Linked DNA regions of Homo sapiens. The protein of the gene in region 6 interacts with the protein of the main gene of each other region in a biochemical or structural test. Each region holds a gene or a part of one and is shown on either strand. Other genes may lie near its edges.

The links.
Region 1: the proteins of SLCO1C1 (region 6) and USH1C interact in a test that uses a peptide from one of them, tested with the Homo sapiens proteins (one large-scale study listed by IntAct).
Region 2: the proteins of SLCO1C1 (region 6) and PDZD4 interact in a test that uses a peptide from one of them, tested with the Homo sapiens proteins (one large-scale study listed by IntAct).
Region 3: the proteins of SLCO1C1 (region 6) and PDZD8 interact in a test that uses a peptide from one of them, tested with the Homo sapiens proteins (one large-scale study listed by IntAct).
Region 4: the proteins of SLCO1C1 (region 6) and RIMS1 interact in a test that uses a peptide from one of them, tested with the Homo sapiens proteins (one large-scale study listed by IntAct).
Region 5: the proteins of SLCO1C1 (region 6) and PTPN4 interact in a test that uses a peptide from one of them, tested with the Homo sapiens proteins (one large-scale study listed by IntAct).
Region 7: the proteins of SLCO1C1 (region 6) and DEPTOR interact in a test that uses a peptide from one of them, tested with the Homo sapiens proteins (one large-scale study listed by IntAct).

Annotation. Positions count from the first base shown.
Region 1 is NC_000011.10:17,509,917-17,513,416, forward strand, and holds part of USH1C (harmonin), read right to left. Parts: intron 2,139-3,500; coding exon 1,986-2,138; intron 606-1,985; coding exon 489-605; intron 1-488. UniProt on the Homo sapiens protein: Anchoring/scaffolding protein that is a part of the functional network formed by USH1C, USH1G, CDH23 and MYO7A that mediates mechanotransduction in cochlear hair cells. Required for normal development and maintenance of cochlear hair cell bundles.
Region 2 is NC_000023.11:153,827,745-153,831,748, forward strand, and holds the start of PDZD4 (PDZ domain-containing protein 4), read right to left. Parts: upstream 2,801-4,004; 5' UTR 2,555-2,800; coding exon 2,495-2,554; intron 2,216-2,494; exon of another isoform or gene 1,989-2,215; intron 1-1,988.
Region 3 is NC_000010.11:117,279,108-117,281,440, forward strand, and holds part of PDZD8 (PDZ domain-containing protein 8), read right to left. Parts: 3' UTR 1-2,333. UniProt on the Homo sapiens protein: Molecular tethering protein that connects endoplasmic reticulum and mitochondria membranes. PDZD8-dependent endoplasmic reticulum-mitochondria membrane tethering is essential for endoplasmic reticulum-mitochondria Ca(2+) transfer.
Region 4 is NC_000006.12:72,176,550-72,180,049, reverse strand, and holds part of RIMS1 (regulating synaptic membrane exocytosis protein 1), read right to left. Parts: intron 476-3,500; coding exon 135-475; intron 1-134. UniProt on the Homo sapiens protein: Rab effector involved in exocytosis. May act as scaffold protein that regulates neurotransmitter release at the active zone.
Region 5 is NC_000002.12:119,758,652-119,762,721, reverse strand, and holds the start of PTPN4 (tyrosine-protein phosphatase non-receptor type 4), read right to left. Parts: upstream 2,801-4,070; 5' UTR 2,338-2,800; intron 1-2,337. UniProt on the Homo sapiens protein: Phosphatase that plays a role in immunity, learning, synaptic plasticity or cell homeostasis. Regulates neuronal cell homeostasis by protecting neurons against apoptosis.
Region 6 is NC_000012.12:20,750,609-20,753,886, reverse strand, and holds the end of SLCO1C1 (solute carrier organic anion transporter family member 1C1), read right to left. Parts: intron 3,213-3,278; coding exon 3,095-3,212; coding exon of another isoform or gene 2,992-3,094; intron 1,582-2,991; coding exon 1,359-1,581; 3' UTR 501-1,358; downstream 1-500. UniProt on the Homo sapiens protein: Mediates the Na(+)-independent high affinity transport of organic anions such as the thyroid hormones L-thyroxine (T4), L-thyroxine sulfate (T4S), and 3,3',5'-triiodo-L-thyronine (reverse T3, rT3) at the plasma membrane.
Region 7 is NC_000008.11:120,006,222-120,009,721, reverse strand, and holds part of DEPTOR (DEP domain-containing mTOR-interacting protein), read right to left. Parts: intron 2,918-3,500; coding exon 2,847-2,917; intron 694-2,846; coding exon 589-693; intron 1-588. UniProt on the Homo sapiens protein: Negative regulator of the mTORC1 and mTORC2 complexes: inhibits the protein kinase activity of MTOR, thereby inactivating both complexes. DEPTOR inhibits mTORC1 and mTORC2 to induce autophagy.

The DNA.
Region 1 (3,500 bases), on a different chromosome or scaffold from region 6:
TTCTAATCTGTTTCTCTTGCTACTGGAGACCCACCACCCTTACATCAGAACCATGGGGCGCCATTCCTCTGCCACCTGGATGCCCAGCTGAGGCCATACTAGGCTGCTGTTAGGGAGTGCCCAAATGCAGAAGAGCCCCAAGTTATGCCATCTGTGGGTGGTAAGGTGTTCACAGAGTTCATTCTCTAAACTGGAATGCCCTTGAGAGTGTAAGGGGGACTCTTAGTCATGATGCCAGGACAACAGGCCTAACTGAGACTATCGCAGATGAGCTGGGACTTAGAGATCACTCTGGGAGTATACCCAGAAATACAGACATATCCCTCCTCCTCAAGAGGGGAGTGGGGTGGTAGGGGTGGGCCTGGACAGTGGATGGGCACTGTGAGGCTAGTGACGTTTGCTAGTTGTCATCTCACCTCCCGCTGTCCCCACAGTGGGTCATTCTGAAGACAGCAGGAGGGTCTATGTGGAAAGAAGGGCTCTGTTACCTCTGAAATCTCATTATCAGCAGAGGAAATCTGCTCGAGGCGCGTTTGACAGAGCCTCTCCACCCAATATTGAATCTTTTCCGATTCTTCAAGGTCTTCCCGCTCTGTCTCAGACACCTGGGACCCAGGATCGGCGCAGAAAGGAGAGGACAAAGGGCACATTTGAATAACATGTGGATAGAAATAGCATGAAAGCACTCCTTTAGAAACTCCAGAGTACTGTGAGGTGCATCAGCTATCTAGAAAGAGACCTGGGCTTGTTCCAACTGGCCCTCAAGGAGGCAGCAGCAAGGGAGAAGAGAGTGGCGGGGTGTCAAATTCACTAAGCAGAACTTGTAGGCAAAATCAGAAAAGGGGCTTATGTATTGTGAGGGATTAGCTGGATCCCAGATCCCCATGAACCCTGAGGCTCTTATGATTTTCCAAGAATGGAGTTTTTGTAGCCTCCCCCAGCACATTCCAAGAGTTTAACTTGACTCTTTTTTTTCCTGCTCCATTCTGCCTTGCCCTCAGAAGCATAAGTTCAATCTTATTTTTAATTTTGTGGCTAATTTGTTCATAATGTCAGACCTAATGCATTTCACATTTTCCAGGACTTCTCTGGTTTTATAATCTAATCAAATTGGCATTCTGATTCATGGATGCGTTAAAGAGAAGCAGAAACAATGATACCTCCTACAGCTGGGGAGTTAAGGTTACCCATCTCACCTAGCATAGGAATTATTCATGGTGTAAGGTTGCTTTGGACATGTCTTCATGGGGACAGCCTCAGATATATTCCCAGGTTGATGAGGTCTAGCCTTAGACACACCCTATGTTGAGGGGAGCAGCCTTAGACTGATAGCCTGATTAATTGGGAGATAACCTCGCACCTACCACCTGCATAAGGGGGTTAGCCTCAGACCCATATTCTCAGAGCCAAGCTAAGTTGGGTGGGGGGGGGTCTGGTCTTACAATAACCTGGGAAGGGAGGCCAGAGTGATTCAGACTCGTAGACAGGTCAGTGGAAGCCTAACTTCAAAGCTACAAGCAAGGCAGAAGGGTTAGCCGCAGACCATACTCTAAGTAGCCTCAGAGCCACACCTGAGATGGAGAGGCCCAGCCTTAGACTCTGGTGGGGTAGAGTGAAGAGGACAGACTCAAATCTCTAAGCCAGGTGTATCAAAGGCTAACCTGAGACCTACCATCTGGTCAGAAAGGCTAACCTCAGACTCACACCCCCCGACCAAGGAGGCTAGTTTCAATTCCAAAGCCAGGAGCAAGACTCACACCCCCAAGCAAGGAGATTAGTTTCAATTCCTAAGCCAGGAGCTAACCTCAGATGGCCCTGGGCAGGTGGCATGATCTCTCTCTCCAGGCTGGGGAGCAGGAAAGGGCTCACTCCACCCTTGTATGCCATTTGAGGAGAACAACTCCAGCTGGTCCTCTGGGAGCACATGGAGAACGACCACATTGTGTCCCAGGGTTGCTTGCCTGGCCTGCAGGCAGGACACATACCTCCTGGGCCAGCCGGTTGATCTTTAGCTGCTTTTCCTTCTCCAGCATTTCCTCTTTCTCTTTGTAAAGCTTTTGCTCAAACTCCAGTTCTTTCTTATTCTTTCTCAAGTCCTGCAGGCTGCCATACTTGGCTTTCTTCTTATCTTTTCCTTTCTGAGTAGATGTGGCATTGTTTATATGACAAAGGTTAGAAATAGTGTCGACAGCACAGCACACGGGGCATCCAGTCCTCACATAACACAACCATCCCATGGTGAGCCCCTCCCCCAGCTCTCTCACCACTCTGGACATCAGACCTCAGGTTTAGGACAGGAAGGCCACTGCTACCTACTGCAGAGTGGGAGACACATTCTCTTTACCAGCCAGAAAGACTGGCTTATTAGTTCACTAACTAGCTGTGTGGCCTTGGCTAAGTTCCTTAACCTCTCTGGGCCTGATTTGCCTCATCTCCAAAATGGTAAAAATACCTCCCCCACAGGCTTGCCACCCAGTGCCAATGAAATAACATCCATGAAAGAACTTTGTAAAAGTTCTGTATAAATAAAAAATAAAATAAAAAAATAAATAAGTGCCATATAAATAAAGGGCATTGTGCTGATTTTCCAGTATCTGGCACATGCCTTCTGCATCATCTCATGTTCAGATTCAGAGATGCATCCTGGGAGATTCCAGAGAAAATCTGGGAGGGCTGGCAAGCTTCATCTGTAGAGGTCCCGTCCTAAGCTAGAAGTGATAGGAGTCACACTGAGACCTGGGGGCTCAGACCCAGGGACATCAGATTTTACCCGCATGCTTAAGCTCTGGACCATTTCACCCTGGAGAGTCTAGACCCACAGTTTCCTCTGAATTGTGCCCCTCTACCGAGGGCTAGCTGGAAACTGCAGGACTGGGAGGCAGGGCATGGAGAGAATGGCTTAACTGCTTTACACTCACCATCAGGGTTCTAGAGGATTTGGGGAGGGACATGAAAGGCAAATAGACTCCTTATTTTTCCTGTAGGAATTAGACCCACCGAGCCTGCATTCCTGGCTGCTTCTCTCATGGGGTTGCAGGGAAGCCAGGGGCTAAGGCAGGAAGAGAATGATCATTTATGAACTGCCTATGTGCCAAGGGATTTATACCAATGATCTCCTATGTAGGTTTATCCTCATTCTTTGATGAAGGAGCTGAGGCTCAGAGAGGTAAAGTCCCTTGTTCAATGTCAGACATCTTGTAACTGATAGTACCAGGATTTGGACCTGAGTCTTCGAGGTCCTAGTTTTTCTATGGTGCCCTGATGAGCTGGGGGCAAGGGAAACACGGCAGGAGGGAGGGTCAGCCCCTATCACACACAGCGTGGAGGACAGAGCGAGCATTCAGGAGAGGGGCAGCAGAGACAGCCCACACCCTGGGCAATTTCTGGGGCAAGGAGGAAACCCCCTGTTCACTGAGCTCACCCCCGCCCCCAACAAGCCTTCTGGGGATCTGCTCTTGAATTTTCTGAATCATCTTAGTATCCAAGGCCAGGAATAAGGA
Region 2 (4,004 bases), on a different chromosome or scaffold from region 6:
GGTGATGAAAACGTTCTGGAATTACTGGTGTGGGCTGCACAACCTTGTGAGTATACTAAAAACCACTGACTTGTACACTTTGAAAGGGTAAGTTGTGCAGTAGGAGAATGATAGCTCAATACAGCTGTAATTTTGGAAGTGTTGTGAGTCATTGGCAGAAAATGGCTTGGAACACAAGGCTAGGCTAGAGACTTGGGGGTTCCTGGCCTGGGGATCCCAGGCCTCTGTGGATTGTAGATGGAAGGCGCTGCAGATGCACATGTGCTTCTTTCTGAAAATCAGGCCCATGAAGTGCCTCACCCTGACAAGGTGCGGACGAGGTTACTCAGGGGGGACAGGGAGAAGTGCCCCCTAAAGATGGGGGAGCACCCGTGTTTAAGGAGGCCGGGAGGCAGGCACGGGGTCCCAGAAGCTGACCTGTCTTTTGGAACAAAAGCTCCTTCTCCTCTGAAGAGGCTGGGACCTGGTGATGCGTCCACCCCCAGAAGCGCAGTCCCCTGGGACAGCTCATGGCTTGCACTGCTTTCCGTATCTACTTTTTTCAGTCCTCTTGTTTTCCCTTAGTTGTGAAGGATGGTTCTCCTCGTAAAATCCCGGCTTTGATTGGGCCAAGGAGGAATGTAGAAAGTGAAAGTTTGCAGCCAAACTCCCACGGTTTCAAAGGGAGCCCAGCAGGAAAGCGCACAGAGGGCGCATGCGGCAGTGGCCCTCCTCCTGGCGGGTCTCCTTGGGGTGGGCAAGTCCCTTCCATGAAGGAGAGCTTAGGGCGCAGAGCAGGGAGGGCCCACCCAAGTTCACCTCCCTGAAGGCAGGCCCAGCCCGACCTGCCGAGGCCTTCCCGGAGGGCTGTGGGGAGCCCCAAGGGCTACCGGTGTCGTCCCATGGCTCATTTCAGGCCTGGGGTGCAGCTCGGGTCGCTCTCCCCTATCCACACGTCCCCACGAGGTTGGCCTTAAATGAAGTGCGACACCAATCCTTCTCCAGGAAAGTCAAAACGGCCCCGGAGGAATCGCTTGGAGAAATCGCTTGCCGTTTGATGGAATGACTCCCGAAAAGGAAGCAGGAGGATGGGATCCAGAGTCCCCGTCAACCAACCATCCCAGCCCTGGAATCCAACACGGATTCCACAGGACGCCCTCTCGGTCGCATTCCTATCCCGCTAGGGGGCTGGCAATGGCCACACAAGGTTTCCAAACAGCGGGAACAAGAGACGAGGAGTGGCAGCCGGGAACTGAGAGGGAAGAAGGCGGAGGACAGCGAACGGGAGAAGCCGAGGGCCCCGCGCACCCCCGGAGAAGGGCCGGGGAGAGAGGACCAGGAGCTCCGCCAGGGTGGGGCAAGATTTGCGTCCCCGCCCTGCCCCTCGGCTCCCGCACCAGGTGGCCAGAGGAGCTCGGCTCACAGCGTGAAGTCAGTCCCCGGATTCCTGGGAATTCTCCCCCGTGCCCAGCCCCTCCTTCCCCCGCCCCCGCCCCCGCCCCGGAGTTCTCGCCGATCCCTGCACGGGTTCCCCCACGTTCTCCCAAGCCAACACCCCTCCTGCAAAGCACTTGATTCCTTCCCAGTCCAGACCAATAAACCCGGGAGTTGAATCCAGGCCACTAAACGCATACCTGTCTGAGCCCTGTCTGCTCCTGGGTGCCTTGACCTTGACCTCCCTCCACTTAGCCCTAGGAGGTCTCAGCCCACAGCATCCGGGACATTTCTCTAGACAGTCTGCAGGGTGCACACAGAAAGTACACAAATGCGGGGCCGGGGGAGCCTCCGCGCACACAGAGACGGGGCACAGGAACGCACTCACGTAGTCACGCCACGCACAGGCAAGAAGCCCCGTTCCGGGCCGCGGGGCTGGGCTCCAGGTCCGAGCTCCGGGCCCCGCGTCTCCTTCCCTCCCCGCGGGGCCCTGCTGGTCCACGCCCCGCAAAGCCCGGCCAGGCACTGCCACCCGCAGAGAGCCCAACCCGCTGATCCCGGCGGCGCCCACTCACCCGAGACGCCTAAGGCCCGGGAGCCCATCGTTCGGGCAGGGCCAGGCGGGAGTGGGTGTCGGGGTGGGCACCCAGCCCCCGGACGGACTTGGACCGCGCCCGGGGACGCCCACGCACTCCCACGCTCCAGGCCCGCCGGGATCTAGATTCGGCGCCCCCCGCACGGCGGGAGCCTGGCTCCCTCCCCCGCCCTGGGTCCTGCGGGGAGAGCGTGTGCGGGGAACTGCGCTCGTTGCTATGCAACCTCCATCCCGCGCCCGCCGCACCGCGCCTCCCGGGACGGAAGCGCGCCCCACCCGGGCCAACCCCAACTTCCCACCCCACCCGTGGCTGGTTCCCACGGAGCGCCAACACCCAACAGCCCCAGGATGGGAGGGTGCGGACGGCTCCCTACCTTGTCCTCCTCGAGCCCTCCCGCTCTCCCACGCCCGCCGCTCCGGGCCTCCCCACTGGCCCGCTCCTCCCCGCGGAGGGCCGCGCCCCCGCCGCAGCGCCGGCGGCCCTACCTGCAGCATCACTTTGTACTGCTCCTCCGGTTTCTGGACCACGCACATATTACATCCCATGTTGCTGGCCGGCGAGAGGAGGCGGAGGGCGGGAACGGGAAGACGCCTTTCACTGACCCGGGCGCGGGACCTCGGGTCCCGGGCCGGGGCCAGGGGCCATACCCTGGCGCGGGGGGCGGGCCGCCTAGCGGGGGAGGGGGGCACGCCCCCGAGGTGGGGGCAGCGGCTCGCCCCTCAGGTTAACTCTTCGCTGGCCGAGGCCAGGCGCGGGCATGCTCCCTCGCACCCGGCCAGGAGAAAAAGGGCAGCGGGGGATGGGCGGGCGCGCCGGGCGTTGCCAGGCTACGGCCCCCCAGGGAGCGCGGGGGCGCGCCGGGCCGCCAGGGGCCGTCAGGGGCCGTGGGCCGCGCGCCTCCCCGCCCGCGGGGCCCGCCGCTGCCGCTGCCGCCTCCGGCTCCTGCCCATGGCCGCCAGCCCCGGGAGCCCGGCCCTCGCGCTCGGCGCCGCGGCCCGGCCCGCGACAGGGGGGCAGCGGCGCGGCGGCGGCCCCCGCCCGCGGCCAGGCCAGCGCCCGCGCTCCCGCCTCGCCCGGCCGCGCTCTCGGAGCTCCCGGCGCCCGCTCTTCGTCCAGCAGCCGCTGGCCGTCTCCAGCTCCCGCCCGGGACGACGGGCACGCGAGCGCGCCCACGGCGGCGGGGGAGGGGCGCGGGCACGGGGCGCACGCGCGCCGGGAGGGGCGGGGAGGGGAGCGGGGCCGGCTGCGGGAGGGAGCGGCGGGGGCGCTGGAGCCGGCGCGGGAAGCCGGGGGCGGGCGCTCGACGGAAGCGGGCGGGGGTCCTAGGCACCCCACGACACCCGGCGTCCGGTCCTGAGGGGCGGGCACCAGGCGCGTTGTCTGCGCGATGCCGCTCTGGGAGAGAGGGGTCCTGCCAGGAGGAGCAGTCTCCTGGGTCCCCCAGAGAGAGTCCGCGATTTCAGCCCCTCTCCCCGGTCTTGGACGCAGCAGCCCTCACGCCTCTGCTCCTTCCTCGGGCTTCGCCTTAAATGACTGCATCCCTCCTTCAACTCAGCCATTCCCTGCTGTCTTTGAAACGGACACCTTTGTTTAAAACAAGAAAGAAAGAGAGAAAGGGAGGAAAGAAAAGAAAGAGAGAAAGAAAAAAGGATGAGCGAAGCGTGGGGAGGGGGTGGGTCGTGGGGAGAGTGGCCTCGGAGGCCTTGGGACCCGGGCCTGCACACAGCACTGGCCAGCCTGGGCCCGCCGCCTACCTGTTCCTCAGCCCCAGCCCTCACCCGGTCCCCGCTTTCACAGCCCTTCCATCTCTTCCTCTTCTCTCCCACCACCTCCCCGTCTTCTTGGACAAGCCTGGAGGGAGAAGGCCTTTGCCTGGAAAGCAGCAGCGGGTGGAAGTCTGCGTTCCCAGAGGCTGCCCCGGCTGCAGGAGATCACTTGGAGAAATTGCTACATGCTTCATTTCCAGGTTTGGGCAAGTGAGGGAACCCCCAGCCA
Region 3 (2,333 bases), on a different chromosome or scaffold from region 6:
AAAATATAAATAAAACCTTCAGAACTGTTTTGGAGCAAAAGATAGCTTGTACTTGGGGAAAAAAATTCTAAGTTCTTTTATATGACTAATATTCTTGGTTAGCAAGACTGGAAAGAGGTGTTTTTTTAAAATGTACATACCAGAACAAAGAACATACAGCTCTCTGAACATTTATTTTTTGAACAGAGGTGGTTTTTATGTTTGGACCTGGTAATACAGATACAAAAACTTTAATGAGGTAGCAATGAATATTCAACTGTTTGACTGCTAAGTGTATCTGTCCATATTTTAGCAAGTTTACTTAATAAATCTTCTGAACCATGTTTTGTGCCTGTTTGTATTCCTTTATAAACCAAATGTTGTTGGAATAAAATACATAAGGTATCATTTTGACTGTGGATATTTAATTAAAAACTATTTTTCTGTGCTTGTAGGCATCAGGTAAAAGCCACCCCAGGTTAGCTTGACCATACTTTTTTGGCTTTCCACAATTTATTTTAAATTGAGATATGTAACTAGCCACATTCAATGTGGAAAAAAACCAGGAAGTTATCCTTCCATCTATAAACATTGTTGTCCTGATGGTTGTCAACAAATAACCATATCTGATGAAAACAGCTGTAATATCCACCCATTTGACTTAATCCCGGGGGAGTTTGTAAAACCGTTGAAATCTGATACATTTTGAATGGTGTGCCCATGGGTATCTTCCTGCGGTGAAAGTCCACATCTTTAATCAGATCCTAAAAGCGGATCTATGGCCCAAAAGGAATTAGGGGAACCTCTCCTTCTTTTGGTAAGAAAAGCAATTATGTCAATTTAGAAGACAGTATTTTTAAAAGTAGGTATTTAAAATTTATTCACTTTTAGGGGACTTAACATTTTATTATTTATCTTATTTTTAAGAGCCAAATATTTCCAAATTGCTTTAAAAAAAATTCAGCTATACATTTAGAACTTGATAGTACCCCTCAAAATTTTTAGGTTGTGTTTTCTCCTCCCAGCATCACAAAATAGCCACTTATTTCAAGTACTTCTGATATTGAATATAAGGCTTGATATGAAGAAGTATAGCCTATTATGATTGCTAATAATGCTAAAATGTTGCTCAGTTTGTCTAAGCCATTCACTCAGCTAATACTAATGTAGAAAATATATTTTAAAGTCTAATTACTAATACATAGCCAAAGGAAACCCATAAACTTGATAATCCATAAGGAAACAATAGTAAAAAAATGTTTTGGGGCAGTCTGCAAAACAGCAATTTTGTTTAGGAAAAGTGGACTTTGTTATGCTTTTCTGCATGGCCAAATTATACCAGAAGATAATTCCATAGAGATGCAGCAATCACCTTTTTTAAAGATTTCATTAAATGAAGATATTCTTGTTTTCTGTGGTAGTCTTTATTATTATTTTTTAGCTATTGATACATAGCATGGCAGCAAGATTACATCAGTAATGTAATATAATACAGCTTTTTTCATTGAAGCTTTGTACCTTACTATACTCTAGGCTATTTGGAGTGTTCCCCCACTTGCACTAAAGTACAACTATGATGTCTCTACTGCCTCTCCCAGTGAAATATAAAAATATTGCACTACATTACAGATATAGTTTACAAATGTCATTAGCAGCATTACTGAGCTTTCTATAATTGTGGTCTACAGAGTTAAATACTTTTAAAACATGAGTAGATTCTTATAAAACCAAAGTTTTGCATTATTTCAACAGCTCTTTCAAATGCATCAGTTTCAGCAACATGCTTGGGTATCATGAAAACTTCCATGGTTTAATCAATAAACACCAGCTACTTACAAGTAGTCCACCTTCCAGGTTATCAATGGTAAGTTATTTTTTATAAAGTGGTTACACACTGAGCAGATTGCCTCAAGTGTAAGTTATGGAACAATACTTTAGCTTTCAGGGAATTTGGTGTGTAAATTCTTCTATAGCAGTGTTCTTTTAAAATAAGATCACGTGGCCGGGCGTGGTGGCTCACGCCTGTAATCCCAGCACTTTGGGAGGCCGAGGCAGGTGGATCACGAGGTCAGGAGATCGAGACCATCCTGGCTAACATGGTGAAACCCCGTCTCTACTAAAAATACAAAAAATTAGCCGCGCCTGTACTCCCAGCTACTCCGGAGGCTGAGGCAGGAGAATGGCGTGAACCTGGGAGGCGGAGCTTGCAGTGAGCCGAGATCATGCCACTGCACTCCAGCCTGGGAGACAGCGAGACTCTGTCTCAAAAAAAAAAAAAAAAAAAAAAAAAAAAAAAAAAAAAAAAGACATCACGCTTAAATAAGTAATGAAGTATACTGAGATGTTTTTGTTAT
Region 4 (3,500 bases), on a different chromosome or scaffold from region 6:
CTTTTGTTTTTCCATGTGGGGCCTGAGAAGTACTACTTCCACATATTCCTCGTAATAGAAGTTAAATTCTTGAAAACGGCTTTGCTCTCCTAGCAAAATCTTGCCTTTTGCTTACAGGGTGAAAGAACTATTACCTCTCTCTAGGAGGTTCACTTCTAGACCTGGATGAAGCCTGCTTCTGTTCAGGCCCCAAGGCTTGCTGCGAGGGCTCAGCCCCTTTGCTCCTGTCTGGTGGTGCGCTGGGAGGAGCAGCATCCTGGGAGGAGGCAGCTGCTGTGCTTAGGGGTGTCTGAGACCGCGATCGCTCTTGGAGTCGTGCTTTCTTTTCTCTTGGTACCTCAGAGCCAGCACCTGTAGCTGTATCACTCAGGGTTCCATCCTGACTTGTCTGCTGAGGGCCACTTCCAAAGAACCATGCCCCAGATTTGGTTAAGATTTCTTGTTGCTTTCGACATAAATTGCATACCCACATAACCTATTTGAAGAAGAAAGAACAATATAAATTTTTATGCCCTCTTGGAAATAATTTTTCAGTATCTTAAAATATATTTAAGAAAAAAAGAACAGTATTCATTTTCATATTTATCCTTGCAAATTTCTTGTGAAAATGGTCCTCCCACAAGTCACAGTCAAATATATGAATGCCTAGACAGGGACTTGTCTGAGACTAGAGAGCCTCTCAGCAGCCAGAGTAGAGGTTTTTTCTCAGCATTTCTGATTTGATTATTCTGAATTTCCTTTTACCATATATCTGTCATATTTTTTATAATTGACTCTGGAGTGTTAGCAAAAATGTTCTAAGCAAGGTAGTTAACTGATTAGAAAAATGTTACCAGGAAAAAAAAAGAAAAATGTTACCAGGAACTACAGAATCAGTACGTAAATACATAAACCTCAGTACTTGCAAGTATTTTTAAAAAGTCTGTCTTTTCAAAAATCACCCACAATTAAAGGCAATATTAAAAATATTCACATAGAAGAAACATACAAAGTAAGCACACAAAAAAGGTCAATGTGTATATTTTCTCTAGTTTCTTAGTGATAAACTAACCTTAAGCTTATTTATGCTATAAAATATAATTTTCCATGCACATATTTACTAAAGCAATAAATGTGACTCTGAGTTTATTCATATGTGACCACTCCAATGTAATGTTCCCCAAGGAGAGCTATTGGGGAACCATCATTTAGCAACATATCCACTGATAAATTATAAGATGTAGCACCACTTAAAATAAACTATATGTCTGTTCTCCATTTGATGACCTTTAAAATGAATGTAATAATGAGGACGATTATCATAATAAAAAATAATAATAGCAGCAATGACTAGCTGTCACAGGGCAAAGATAGGTGCTAACAGCTCCATGAGCTGTCTTTTCAAATATCCTCAGTACCTCTGTTTCTTTGTGCTGTGACTTTACATCGCTGCCTCAGTTACATGCCTCCAAAAGCACTTCAGGTGTTTTGTGTTTGTTTCTACTTCAGAAACTACCTCCACAGGAAAAACTAATTACCAAACTCTAGGCTTCCTTTTCACAAATACTGACTCAATCAACATGTACTCAAAAATATTGCATCAGGATGAATAAATCGTAGAAACATTAACTGATAAGTAATAGAAAATAGTAAAAGAAGCATTGTTTAGTAGGTCAAATGAAGAAAATGAACTACTGAAAATATTCAGATAAATGGGGAAAAACTGTAACTGTAGCCATAGAATAAGATGAAGCTAAAATAAGAATAAGAAAAAGACAGGAAAAAAGTAATACACTTTTTTAAAAGGAAAATACTGCAGGTGAATTAAGAACTGCTTTCCAGGAAAGAAAACTCAAATGAATTATAATATAGGAAAAATTAAGACTGAAGAGAAATACTTGCTATAAAAAATTTAAAATTCATGAAGGTTAATTGATTTATTTAGACTTTCCCAGTCATAAAATGAAGTGTACTAGGTTCAAAAAAGCAGTTAGGTATAATGTCTACACAAAGTATTATAACCAATATTACGGAATTCTCATCTACTAAGATGTCAAACAAGATGAACAATTCATTGCATAAACCTATATCAAAATAAGGATTTTATGGAAAGTAACTTCAATTTAAGTGCTAGCCAAATAAGGGTATATTTTACAAAATCTATTACTGAGTAGGTCCCTCAGAAGTCCTGATTGTTTGAACATGGACATATTAAGGGTAACATTAAAAGGTGCAGTACTCCAGGGCCAGGACCTTCATGAACAGTCAGTGACACTGAGTCTCTTCTGCCCAGAACCCTGAGTGGGGACAGGACGTGTGTGGTGGGAAGGTTTTGGTTGGTTGGTTTGTTTTTTGTCTCTTTAGCTGACAGACCATAATAAGAAAGTTTGAAATCATGTAATTCAACAAGACTGGTATGAAATTTTGACTATTTTACATCAAATAAGAAGACGTTAAATTTGTATTTCTCAGACTAATAGTAAGCAACTTATTATCATCATTTAAAGTAGGTTCTTTTCAGCCAGGTGTGGTGGCTGACACCTGTAATCCCAGCACTTTGGGAGGCTGAGGGGAGCAGATCTTCTGAGGTCAGGAGTTCGAGATCAGTCAGGCCAACATGGTGAAATCCCGTCTCTACTAAAAATACAAAACTTAGCCGGGCATGGTGGTGCATGCCTATAATCCCAGCTACTTGGGAGGCTGAGGCAGAAGAATCACTTGAACCCGGAAGGCAGAGGTTTCAGTGAGCTGAGATCCCGCCACTGTTCTCCAGCCTGGACGATAGAGCGAGACTCCATCTCAAAATAAATAATAAGAAATAAAATAAAATCAAGTAGGTTCTTTTCTACAGAAATATCAAGGTATACTTAGGATAAATATGCAGTTTTTAAAAAACCAGAAAACACAAATTTACAATTACAAAGTTTCTAAAATTGAATAAAGCTAAATAAAGAAGCAGAAAGGAGCACAATAATACTGATGAAGGGTAAAGGATACTCTTCATTTTACATTTGAATATTCTCTAGAAATTATTATCACAATCTTATTTTGATTGCTTCACATTTTTAAACGTTACAAAAAATGGGTCAATGAGAACTAACTGCCAGATTTGGGCATGTTCCAAATTTTGAGTATGTGCAGAACTGCTACCAGATCAATTAAAAGAAACACAATTTATTATTATTAAATAAGTTGAATTTTACAATTTAATTTCATTTCCAGTTTATTCAAAAGGTTACAATTAGTGACTATGTCAAAACAGCATAGGCATTTTAAATTCTATTCTTAAAATACTTTGTATTCATTTAAGTCTGTGATGCTTTGTTAATTTTTTTGTTTTTAACATTTAGTAAAATACTGTATAATTCCAAACTTTTTCTATGTCTTATTTCCTTGTACACCACAACATTTTTAAATTTGTATTTTTAAATTAACTATAAGTGTAGTCAATCCATCCTCCAAACTGAAAGTAAAATTAACCATGGCAATGTTAAAATATTTATTTTTATCAAAATATCACC
Region 5 (4,070 bases), on a different chromosome or scaffold from region 6:
CATTCTAACTAAGAATTTAGGCAAAACTTTAAAACATTTGCCCCTAAACATACACCAAACAAGATTTCCACGTTTCTGGAAAACTTTTCTTGTTTAAAAGTGGCCATATTAACTCTCAAGCGGGGGGCAGAAGTACTCTCAATAACAAACCTCCTTGCAATTTTCTGCTAGTCTCTTACTTTGCTCCTTAAAGACAACTTACTAAAAACCATGATCACTGATCCCGCTTTTAGAGTTTGTAAGTCATAAATAAATACTAAACAGATAACAATGGATACTGTACTGTACACCTCAATTATGTTTAACAGACAAAACTATTTTAAAAATACAAATCACAGTTTAATAACAACCTAACGAAGTCATACAAGTTAAAAAAAAAAGCTGAAAAGTTTTTATTACCATCTCACGTAAATTGTATTACTATCCCACTTTATTATACTTTTTTTTTAAAGTTAGGCATCTATGCTCAAACTGATTAAATCGAGTATGAGAGATCTATACTTTTTTTAAAAGTCCTTCAACAATAATGAAGTGTACACTGGTCACAGAATAGTTCAAATGAAATTTCCTGAGGCTGCATTCTAAGTACATCCGACCCAGAAAGTATTTTTAGCAAGTACGTTCAATCAATGCTGGTTTTATGCCTAGCCTAAATTAGAAATTGGGTGTTATAAATTTAAAGTAACAATGTTACTAGGGACATTTTAAAAGATATTTAATTAGAACATAAGAAAAAAACACAAGTTTGACTCAATTCAATACCTACAGCTCTGAAGCTAAGATGTTAGAAAATGGGCAGTAAGAAAAATCACATCCTCGTCTATTACTACTTTTGAGGAACTCGTGATTTTCTAACTTAATAAACATGGACCTACTCAATTAATATTTTTAAAAACTACAAAATAGTGGTGCCTCCTTGGATTTTAAAAACCTCTTGCCAAATTTTTAAAACAGACTGGCAACATGACAAACATTCCCATGTACAAAATAGACTGTTTCTCTTATAAATCACTGAAGATTATGATACTATGGGACCGTGCGTGTTTCAATGCAAAATGTAACAAAGATATGTGTACCATAAAAAATGCGAAGAGACATAAAAATTGCTTTTGTGGTAATTGGAGCATAAATTTATTCTAACAAAAAAACAGTGATGTCCACAAAATGATCACACTTACGAGCTAGTGAAGAGGTTCTGTAGAATACACAAACTTCTGCTTACGAGTTTTTTCTTTAAAAGAAAGCTGAATTTATATTAGTCAAATTCAAGATTTAGATGATATACCTAGCTCTATTCCATTAAGCACAGTTTAGGCTCTGAACAATCCTTTATTTTAAGGCCATCTCCTTCCCCCTTAAAATTGAAAAAAAATTTTTTTCCTCTGGCACGTTAAAGTTCAGAAAACCAAGATTTAAAAATGCCCTGGCTTTTACTGTTCCAGTCTTCTTTCTACTCTAATTGTCTTTTGCAAGTCGGACACATTGGCCTTTTATCTTTCTCCATAAATATGTTTTAAATGTGACCAATCAGCTGTACTGTTTCAACTGGGCCCAAGATCTGGACACAGAAACTTAGTATTACTGAAACCTCTTATTCGAAAAGCAGCTGGCATATTGCAGATGCATAACAAGTTATCCTAGAACAGGCGTTTTGAAAAATCCTACAAATCGTCCTTGTACATACTGATGTCACTACATGATGCAAGCCCAGACATAAAATCTTCCACCCTAAGTTTTGCAGAAACATCCACACATCACCTGTGCAACTGTAAGCTGTTCCATTTTATGGAAACCCTGCGAAATGCATCACTGTTTACCCACATCTCAACTTTTTTTTTTTTTTTTTTTTTGGCTCAACTACAGATTCCCAAATACAGGTATATACTGGTAGAATCATAACAGGCTTAAAACTTCAATGGTAGGAATAGTTGGCTCATGCAGCGTGCAAGAAGCGCTCATATGAGCCAAAAAAAAAAAAAAAAAAAAAAGGAATTCTACCAGCAATGGAAAACTCAAGATTCCAAAGCTTTACCTAGAGTTTAGGTACTGGGAACATTCCATCTCCGCACCTATTCCATCCCTTGGCCCTTCGCTGACCCATAACAGAGATTCCAACTATAACCCCCGCAAAAGCAGAGGTCCCAGGAAGAAAGGAAAGAAAGCGTTTTTTTGTTTGTTTGTTTGTTTGTTTTTGTCCTTTTTTCCTTCCTTTCAAATCATCCTCGTACCTCCGGCTTGCCCCACCTGGCTCACCTCCCAGGAGCCACACATGCAGGTAAGAGCCTCCCGTTCAACGTGCAGGGCCGAGAGGCCGGCGGGGACCGGAGAACCTCTTACCTTCGTATATCACAGCCGCGTCCTCTCGGCTGGAGAAAAAAAGCCTCGAGGCCCCGGCGCGCAGAGGAGAAGCGCGTCCTCCGTGCCGCTCCGGGGGGCTACCTCAGCGCCCCCCGAGCAGCCGCCGCCGCAGCGGTCGCGCCACGACCCGGAGCCGCCAGCACCACCTCATGCTGCTGGGCAGCCGCGGGCCGGCGCCGCTGGGGAGGTGGCAGGGAGGCGGGCAGCCGGCGACCTCTCCTACCTCCCTGCAGGGATGAGATAATCCACACCCCCAAAAGTGCGTGGGGGAGGGGGCCTGGCCCCAATCCTCCGACCCCGCGGCCAAAGCCAAGTCTCTTTCCTCTCCCGCTCAGGCCCAATTCCGGCCCCTGGGACCCAGGAGTCCTGAGAGAACAATGTTGGTGGTGGGGCGCGAGGAGCGGAAAAGCGCACTGCGCGGCGTGAGCTGGCGGGTAATCCTGGGCAGCGTTTGTGTGTGAGAGTGCAAGAGGAGCTCAGTCACCCCCCTCCTTCTCCACCTCCTCTTCCTCCCCCTCCTCCTCCTCTATCTCTTCCTCCTCCCTCAAGCACACCCCCTCTCCTAGGCCGCAGCATAGCAACCGAACATGGCGGCTGCGCAGGCGCCGCCAGTCAGTGGCCAGGAGCGGCGGCGGCAGCAACAGGAGGCGATCTCGCGAGAGGCGAGGCCAAAACCCTGCCTCGCTAGCGCAGGGAGAAGTCGCACCAGTCGGAGCGCAGAGGGACACGCAGGTGCGAGAGAGAGCGGCCTAGGAGGATTGGGAGGGCGGATTGGAGGGGGGAGGCGGAGCGCTGTGGCCCCCGCCCCGCAGCCGCGTCGCGATTGGTTGTTTGGACTGCGACCCCTGCTGCACCCACTGACCGCAGGGACCGGATAGTGGGCAAGAAGCGTGTGTTAAAAGGGAAAACCAGACCAGTTGGCAGCAGGTCGCCCCAACCTCAGTGCTCCTGGAGGATATAGGTTTTGGGGGGCAGTTTTGAATCATTTCCTCTCCTAAACGTAGGCTCCAAAACAAAGCCTCAGCAACCAACCTGCGTTTATAAAACAAACGTTCGGGGGCTCCTTCTGTGTGCCTGGAACGGTGTGCTTTTTAAAATTTAATTCCTTCTAATAACATGAATTTGGTGTTATCACGCCAGGGTTTTTAGCCAGGTGCATTATAATATTTTATTGGTGATACAAACTTATTGGTAATACCACAGTTGCCTACTGGCGAATGATCTCAGCTGAAATGGAGGAAGAAGGGATTTGGGGACCGCCACACTTCCTTTTTGCCCAATTTTTGTTAGTGCCCTTTTCTGTCGCCAGGCGCCTTCTTTGTCCTTCCTTGCTCTTAGCTTGAGCATCCTATCAGAGCCTACCTTTATAAAGACGATCTTTCAAAAACCACTTTCCCAAGCCGACAAAATGACTACAAATCAGGGGAATGTGAACAAATCTGGAAAAGACAGAAATTTCTATTGACTCTCTTCTCCCTCACACCTGTTAGTTTTTCCATTTGAAAAAGGCAACTTGTCAATCCATGTTTCCAGCTTTACTTCCTTCACTTGCTTTTCTTCCCAGATCTCTGTTGTAGCCAGTGCTCATTCATTCCTCCCTAAATATGCATTCCTGCCTCTGACTCTCCATTTTGTCTTTGATCATGCCATTCCCTCTGCTAAAATGCTCTTCACCTCATTGTCATCTGTCAACATCCAGTCATCCTCCAACC
Region 6 (3,278 bases):
CAGAAGAGCATCAGGAAGTCAGGAAAGAAGAAACTCTTGGCCGGGCGTGGTGGCTCACACCTGTAATCTCAGCACTTTGGGAGGCCGAGGCGGGTGGATCACGAGGTCAGGAAATCAAGATCATCCTGGCTAACACGGTGAAACCCCGTTTCTACTAAAAATACAAAAAATTAGCCGGGCATGGTGGCGGGCGCTGATAGTCCCAGCTACTCAGGAGGCTGAGGCAGGAGAATGGCGTGAACGCGGGAGGCGGAGCTTGCAGTGAGCCGAGATCGCGCCATTGCACTCCAGCCTGGGCAACAGAGTGAGACTATGTCTTAAAAAAAAAAGAAAAGAAACTCTTGGCTTGACTTTTTCAGTTGCAGAGAAACAGAGCTATCTGGCAGGCTGTCCCAGGGGGAACTCCCTGTGCAGGAGTCCCTAGGCCCTGTGATGTGGGCCTGTGGAGCACCAAAAGGTACCACACTCAGACTTCCCATCAATTCATCCATCACTCTCCATTCCTGTTGTAACACCTACATTTATTGTAGACTTTCAGAAATTCACCTTTCAAACATGTTTTAGGAACACGTCGTGTATAAGTAGGAAGTTGCTTACATATATTAAAGTGGGGCAGTATTATATTTAACAATAGTTTTAAATTCATTGGATTCATAAAAGAACAATAATTGGGCATGTTAACATCAATTTTATTACTTTACAACCATAGTCACTTATAGCGCCACACAAAAAGCACATGTAAATTAATAGTAGGAGAGCTATTAATTCAAAATTCTAATCCCCAATATAATTTGCTGCTACACATTTCTATATAAATTATTGTATTTCAAAGAAAAGGAGGAGCTTAAAATGAAATCTTCCTCTCCATGTTCTGCTCCATCCTAAGATCATTATTAAAATACACAGATGAAGACAGCTATGGGAGAAAATACTATAGGAGTAATACTTGAAGGAACCCAAGGTATGAGTTAATTGTTAGCAGTATTTGCTTACTCTAGACACATTACACAGTTCAGAAATTACTTTAAATATAACCATGTGTGACAATAGAGACAATTGTTCTTCTAGGAGTACAGCTAATATATATCAATGAGCACAAAGCAAAATAAAGTGAAATAAGTAAGTGATATAAAATAATTTATATAAATTAAAAAGTTCAAAATTAGTTTTATCATCTGCATCTTCCATTATATGTTTCAGTATATTATCAGTTATATTACCTAATGCCTAGGACCAAAACAAAGTAGACATTTTTTGAAAGGAGAAAGAAATTACAAATTTAGAGCTCTTTTGATTACAATTTATTTGTTTGCAAAATGTCAACCAATTAGAAGACATGACTTCCAGTCATCATGTTTCTAAAGTTGAGTTTCCTTGCCTGGCCAGTAGTTGGGTTGTAGCAGATGATCACTTGTAGTGTAATTTTCCTTTTGGAATCTTGTAGACACCATTGTTCTTTCTCTCTTGGTTATAAAACTTCTGTGTTTTGAAACATAATTTTTCTTTAAAATGAAAAGTACTGCAATGCTTAGGAGAATTGACACTGTGCCCAGTATCACAGTTAGTCCCAGATATATATGTCTAGAAGAAGAGAGAATCTCTGTTATAATTAATGCAACAACCAACTTGAAAGAAAATTTAAAAGGTAATAATATCATACTGATGGTTTTCTTTAAGAATGTAGATTTGGTGGCTTATATAAAAGACTGTTTTATGAAATACTGACAGACTGTTGAAGGCAGTTTATAAAATAAAGCAATGTCTTAGTAGCACCATCATTTTTAGTTACTACTAATTACATAATCAGTTTCATCCTCTCTGTAAATTATTTCCTTAGACCAGGTAACCATATCCCTGTTTGCCTAGAACAGCCCCAGTTTATGCTAGTGCTGGCCCAGTATAATTTTAATAGTGCTCCTTTTCACACTCAAAAGTACCCAGTTTTGAATGATAAATTATGTGGCTACCCTATCCTCAGACCTTTCCCAACTTCATTTCTTTGGAAAACTTGCATAAAGAAATGCTAATGGGAATTGGAGCTCTGAGTAAAGCAGAATGATTTCAGAATAAACCAGAGATTTAAATCAGTTTATTTCATGAGAAACCTATAGTTCTATGCTTTGTCAGAAGATGCTAAGGTATGGAAGAACAGGTTGAATGTCTCATTCTGGTTACCTTGAAAACATACTCTCAATCTCTGATTGAGTTGCATTGTCTCTACATTACAGTTAATACAGCCTTAGCAAAAATGTGAGGAAATACTAAATTATACTCACAGATTGGGTCCCTTTCAAAGACCAAAATAAATTTCACGCATAGCATCAAAACCTATTAACTCAAACAAATTTATTCAAAATGGTGTGCCCAATTCACATCCAACTTAGATGGTTCAGTACCAAGTTTATTTCTCCAGAAAATGCTCAGTTTGTAAGTCTTTTAAACAATCTTTCTTGCTTTTAAGCCATTGCTTCAATGCTTTTTGCATTTTTTTAAGCAATAAGGGACTAAATGTTTAATGAGCTGAACTGAATGATACCATAGTGAAAAAGCCACGCCACCCAACCCCCATATACACTCACCCACACAGAGAAAACCTTTTACTTTCATGCATTTCAAGTACGAGAATAATTGAACATTAGTTTGGCAATAAAAGCCGGACAGATTTAGAGCCAAATCCAACTCTTGCCCAGGGGTATTATATCTGACGTAAGTGGTACAGTTTGGCTCAGTTTGAAAAAGAATAAAAATCAAACCCAAAATGTGACCTAAATTTAAATGCCTCTGAATTTCAGGGAAATACTTGCCCATTTGTGTGCATAAACTTTCAAAATTCTACTGTATTCTGGACACTTTTGTCATATTTTAAAAATGATTACTCATTTAAAATGGGGGTCAAGGTAATGAATAGGGACAAAATCAAAGATCTAATCAAATAATAATATAATTATTCTATGACTACAGATCACACTTTTTGATTAGACTATTCTTTACCTTACAAGCAGTGAAATGACATGAAAACTTGTTAGTGTCAGTGGCATTGTGTAAATCTGGGATGCTGTAGCAATGAGATGCGGGAATGCTTTTGATTTGGTACCTGAAGACATTTGAATCATATAATCTGCATGATCCTCTACTTCCACATCTTTTAAATCCCCATTTGAGGCATGAAGTATCAATCAAAACTCCAAAATACACTGGAGCTGGGATTCCTGCTGTGAGAAAAACAAATAATTGCTGTTAAAAACATATGCACATCTTTTTGTCTATGAACGATTATC
Region 7 (3,500 bases), on a different chromosome or scaffold from region 6:
GGAGAAAAAGTACACATGGCACCAAATAATGAAATTAAGCTAGAGGTATTTAGACACTGCTAAATGTTGTTTTGTTGTTGTTGTTGTTGTTTTGTTTTGTTTTGTTTTAGAGACAGAGTCTCGCTTTGTCACCCAGGCTGGAGTGCAGTGGTGCGATCTTGGCTCACTACAACTTCTGCCTCCTGGGTTCAAGCGATTCTCCTGCCTCAGCCTCCTGAGTAGCTGGGATTACAGGTGTGTGCCACCACGCCCGGCTAATTTTTGTATTTTTAGTAGGGATAGGGTTTCGCCACGGTGGCCAGGCTAGTCTTGAACTCCTGACCTCAAGTGATATGTCTGCCTTGGCCTCTGAATGTGCTGGAATTACAGGTGTGAGCCACCGCGCCTGGCTAGACACTTCTAAATGTTTATTAGAGGAGAGGGAAGACCCAGGGAAAGGTTAAAGACTTTGGAGAACAAGAAAGAGAGGGCAGAAATAGAAAAGGACACAAAATAAGATGGGTTTGGATCCCTAGTAAGAATCATGGCCAATTTAGCATGAAGAACCCAAGACAGATATAAAAGAGGGTGAGAAAGACCCGTTAGTACCTTCATTCCTGCTGCGGCTGCAGGGCCACTGGGGTCTACAGCCTGGATGTGGCATGGCTTACTTCCTCGCACCACAAAACCCCAGCCAACCGCGTCACCAACAATCTAGAGAGGAAAACCACAATTAGCAAGCAGCCGACTGTCTCCGGCAATTTGCTTATTCTTCTGAGGGAGAGAAAACCAGCCCAGGATTAAGTATACACTGTGACATATTTTCCTCCGTTTCTCTCTTCCCTGCCAGGGGATTGGAACACTGCTTCTATCACAAACCCGGGCATCTCCCTGTAGAAAAGGTGGTAAAAAAAATCTAACCTGTTTGGCAGAAAGAAGATGCTCCCATGAGGGCATGATTCAATAAACAACTGGAAGATTTTCTCTTTCTTAGGCTGTTATACAATTTAATGTCAGACTCCAATAGAAGGTTTAGAAAAAGTCGTAACGTGGTTGAAATGTCTCTCCAGATACAATTTCTGCTCTAAGTTTGTTCTTTTCCCCAGTATCCAAATGATACACTCTTGATCCTGCAACGTCATTGAAGTCTAGCATAATTATTGAAATTACTAATGGTGGGAAATAAAGAGACCTGGCTTTTTTTTTTTTTTTTTTGAGACAGAGTCTTGCTCTGTCACCCAGGCTGGAGTGCAGTAGTGCAATCTCAGCTCACTGCAACCCCACCTCCCGGGTTCAAGCGATTCTCCTGCCTCAGCCTCCTGAGTAACTGGGATTACAGGCATGCAACACCATGCCTGGCTAATTTTGTGTATTTTTAGTAGAGACAGGGTTTCACCATGATGGTCAGGCTGGTCTCGAACTCCTGAGCTCAGGTGATCCACCTGCCTCAGCCTCCAAAGTGCTGGGATTACAGGCGTGAGCCACCATGCCCAGCCTCCACCAAGGGAGCCCTCCACCAAGGGCTCCACCATGCCCCTTTCTCCACCAAGGGGGGAAAAGAAGTGAAAAAGTACATAAAGTTCACAATGTACAAGTAGACTCTAATCCAAAAGTTGTTTGGAATTAGAGAAGGCCTTTTCTATAGAAATCATTATTAGAGCTGGCAGTTTAATTCCCTGGACAGCTCCTAGCCACATCTTTCACACATATCCCAACCAAAACACAGCTGAAACACATTCACAATCAATTACTAACAATGTTGGCATTTAAATTAAAAATCAAAAATAAATACTTTCAAAATAACAATCTACCTCTCTTGAATGCTGGAGACTGAGGAAAAACAGGGAGGCAAATGAAAATTTTTGTGGAAATGCTCAAGATTTTCAGGCACTTCCGTTACTTTACAGTTTGCTGTTATTTGTATATTATACTCAATTTCACTTCCGAAGGTGGAGTTTATCTTTTCCTCTGGTACAGACATGTTGTCAGCGCCTTTCTCCTATTAACTCCTCAGCATTCAGAATGTGAAATAGCCCTCAGCAAATGTTTGCAGCATGACTGAGTGTGGATAGAATTCTCCCCCAGCCTGAGGCAATGCCACTAAAGTTAGAAGATGAAGGAGGAGAAGTGTTTTGAAGAGGGTATGAACGTGAATTTGAGGAGATTGACAGAAGGAGACACAGGAAGGGGAGTGGGTGCGGTGATGCTGAAAAGAGCACTTTCATTCCATTTGAAGAAATCCAACGTAGGCATTAGGAACCTAAAGGACCTCCAAGAAGGGGCAGGTGGTCCGGAGCTGCTCACAGCAAGTCAGAGGCTCGTGTACCTCAAGGCATGCACACATTGTCGAAGCACCCTGCCTACGGTAGAAAAGTTTATCCCACAGTTTCCTTTCTCTAGCTTAACACTCCCCTAATGTTTTAAATAATTTCTAGAATTAATCCTAATGCAGAAGGGATTATTGGCATCATTTGCACTTCCATTTGCCATAAAATCTAATAATAATTTAAATGACTAATGGTGGGAAATAAAATCTAAAATTATTAGATTTTAAGGTAAATGCAAGTGCAAATGATGCCAATCTTGAAATTTGCAATTAAATTAGAATAAATGCATAATGGAAATCTTTTCTTTAACAAAGAACACATCAAAAAATTTTTAAATGGTATATTAATAATAACGCATGTGAAGTCCTAATGCACCTTAGTGCCTTGAGGTCAAGAAAGCCTAGTATCATAATTACGCTAAAAACAAAAAGAAAATTAGAAAAGTAGTTTTCATTTCAGTCTATAAGCTACCCATTGACACATGGACACGGTGCAGAAAAATGGGCAGCACGGGAGAAAAAGGCCAGACCATCAGCCTACCGTGAATGTCTTCCTTGCATACGGAGCCCCGGGAGTAAGGAGTTCCTCAGAGGTGACAGGTCTCTTCAGCACTGGCAGACAAACACAATGTCAAGACATAAGCACTTCCAAGTCCTCTATCCATGCATTCAGCAGCTATTTATTGATATCTCGTAGGTGACCATCAGTGAGAAAAAGTGGCAAAGATCCCTGCCTCACAGTTTATATTTTAGCTGAATGGAGACAGTAAATAGCAGCAAACATAAATAACCCTAAACCTACCTTACAAAGCTAAGGAAAAAAAGAAAGAGAAGGAAAGCAAGAGTGCCAGGGGTGGGGATAAGGGGGCAGGTCAATTTTTTTTTTTTTTTAAAGACGGAGTTTTGCCCTTGTCACCCAGGATGGAGTGCAATGATGCGATCTCGGCTCACTGCAACCTCCGCCTCCTGGGTTCAAGCAATTCTCCTGCCTCAGCCTCCTGAGTAGCTGGGATTACAGGCACCCAACACCATATCTGGCTAATTTTTGTATTTTTAATAGAGACAGGGTTTCACCATGTTGGCCAGGCTGGTCTTGAACTCGTGACCTCAGGCAATCTGCCTGCCTCAGCCTCCCAAAGTGCTGGGATTACACGCATGAGCCGCCCAGCCTCACTTCCTTCTTAACACCTAGGAC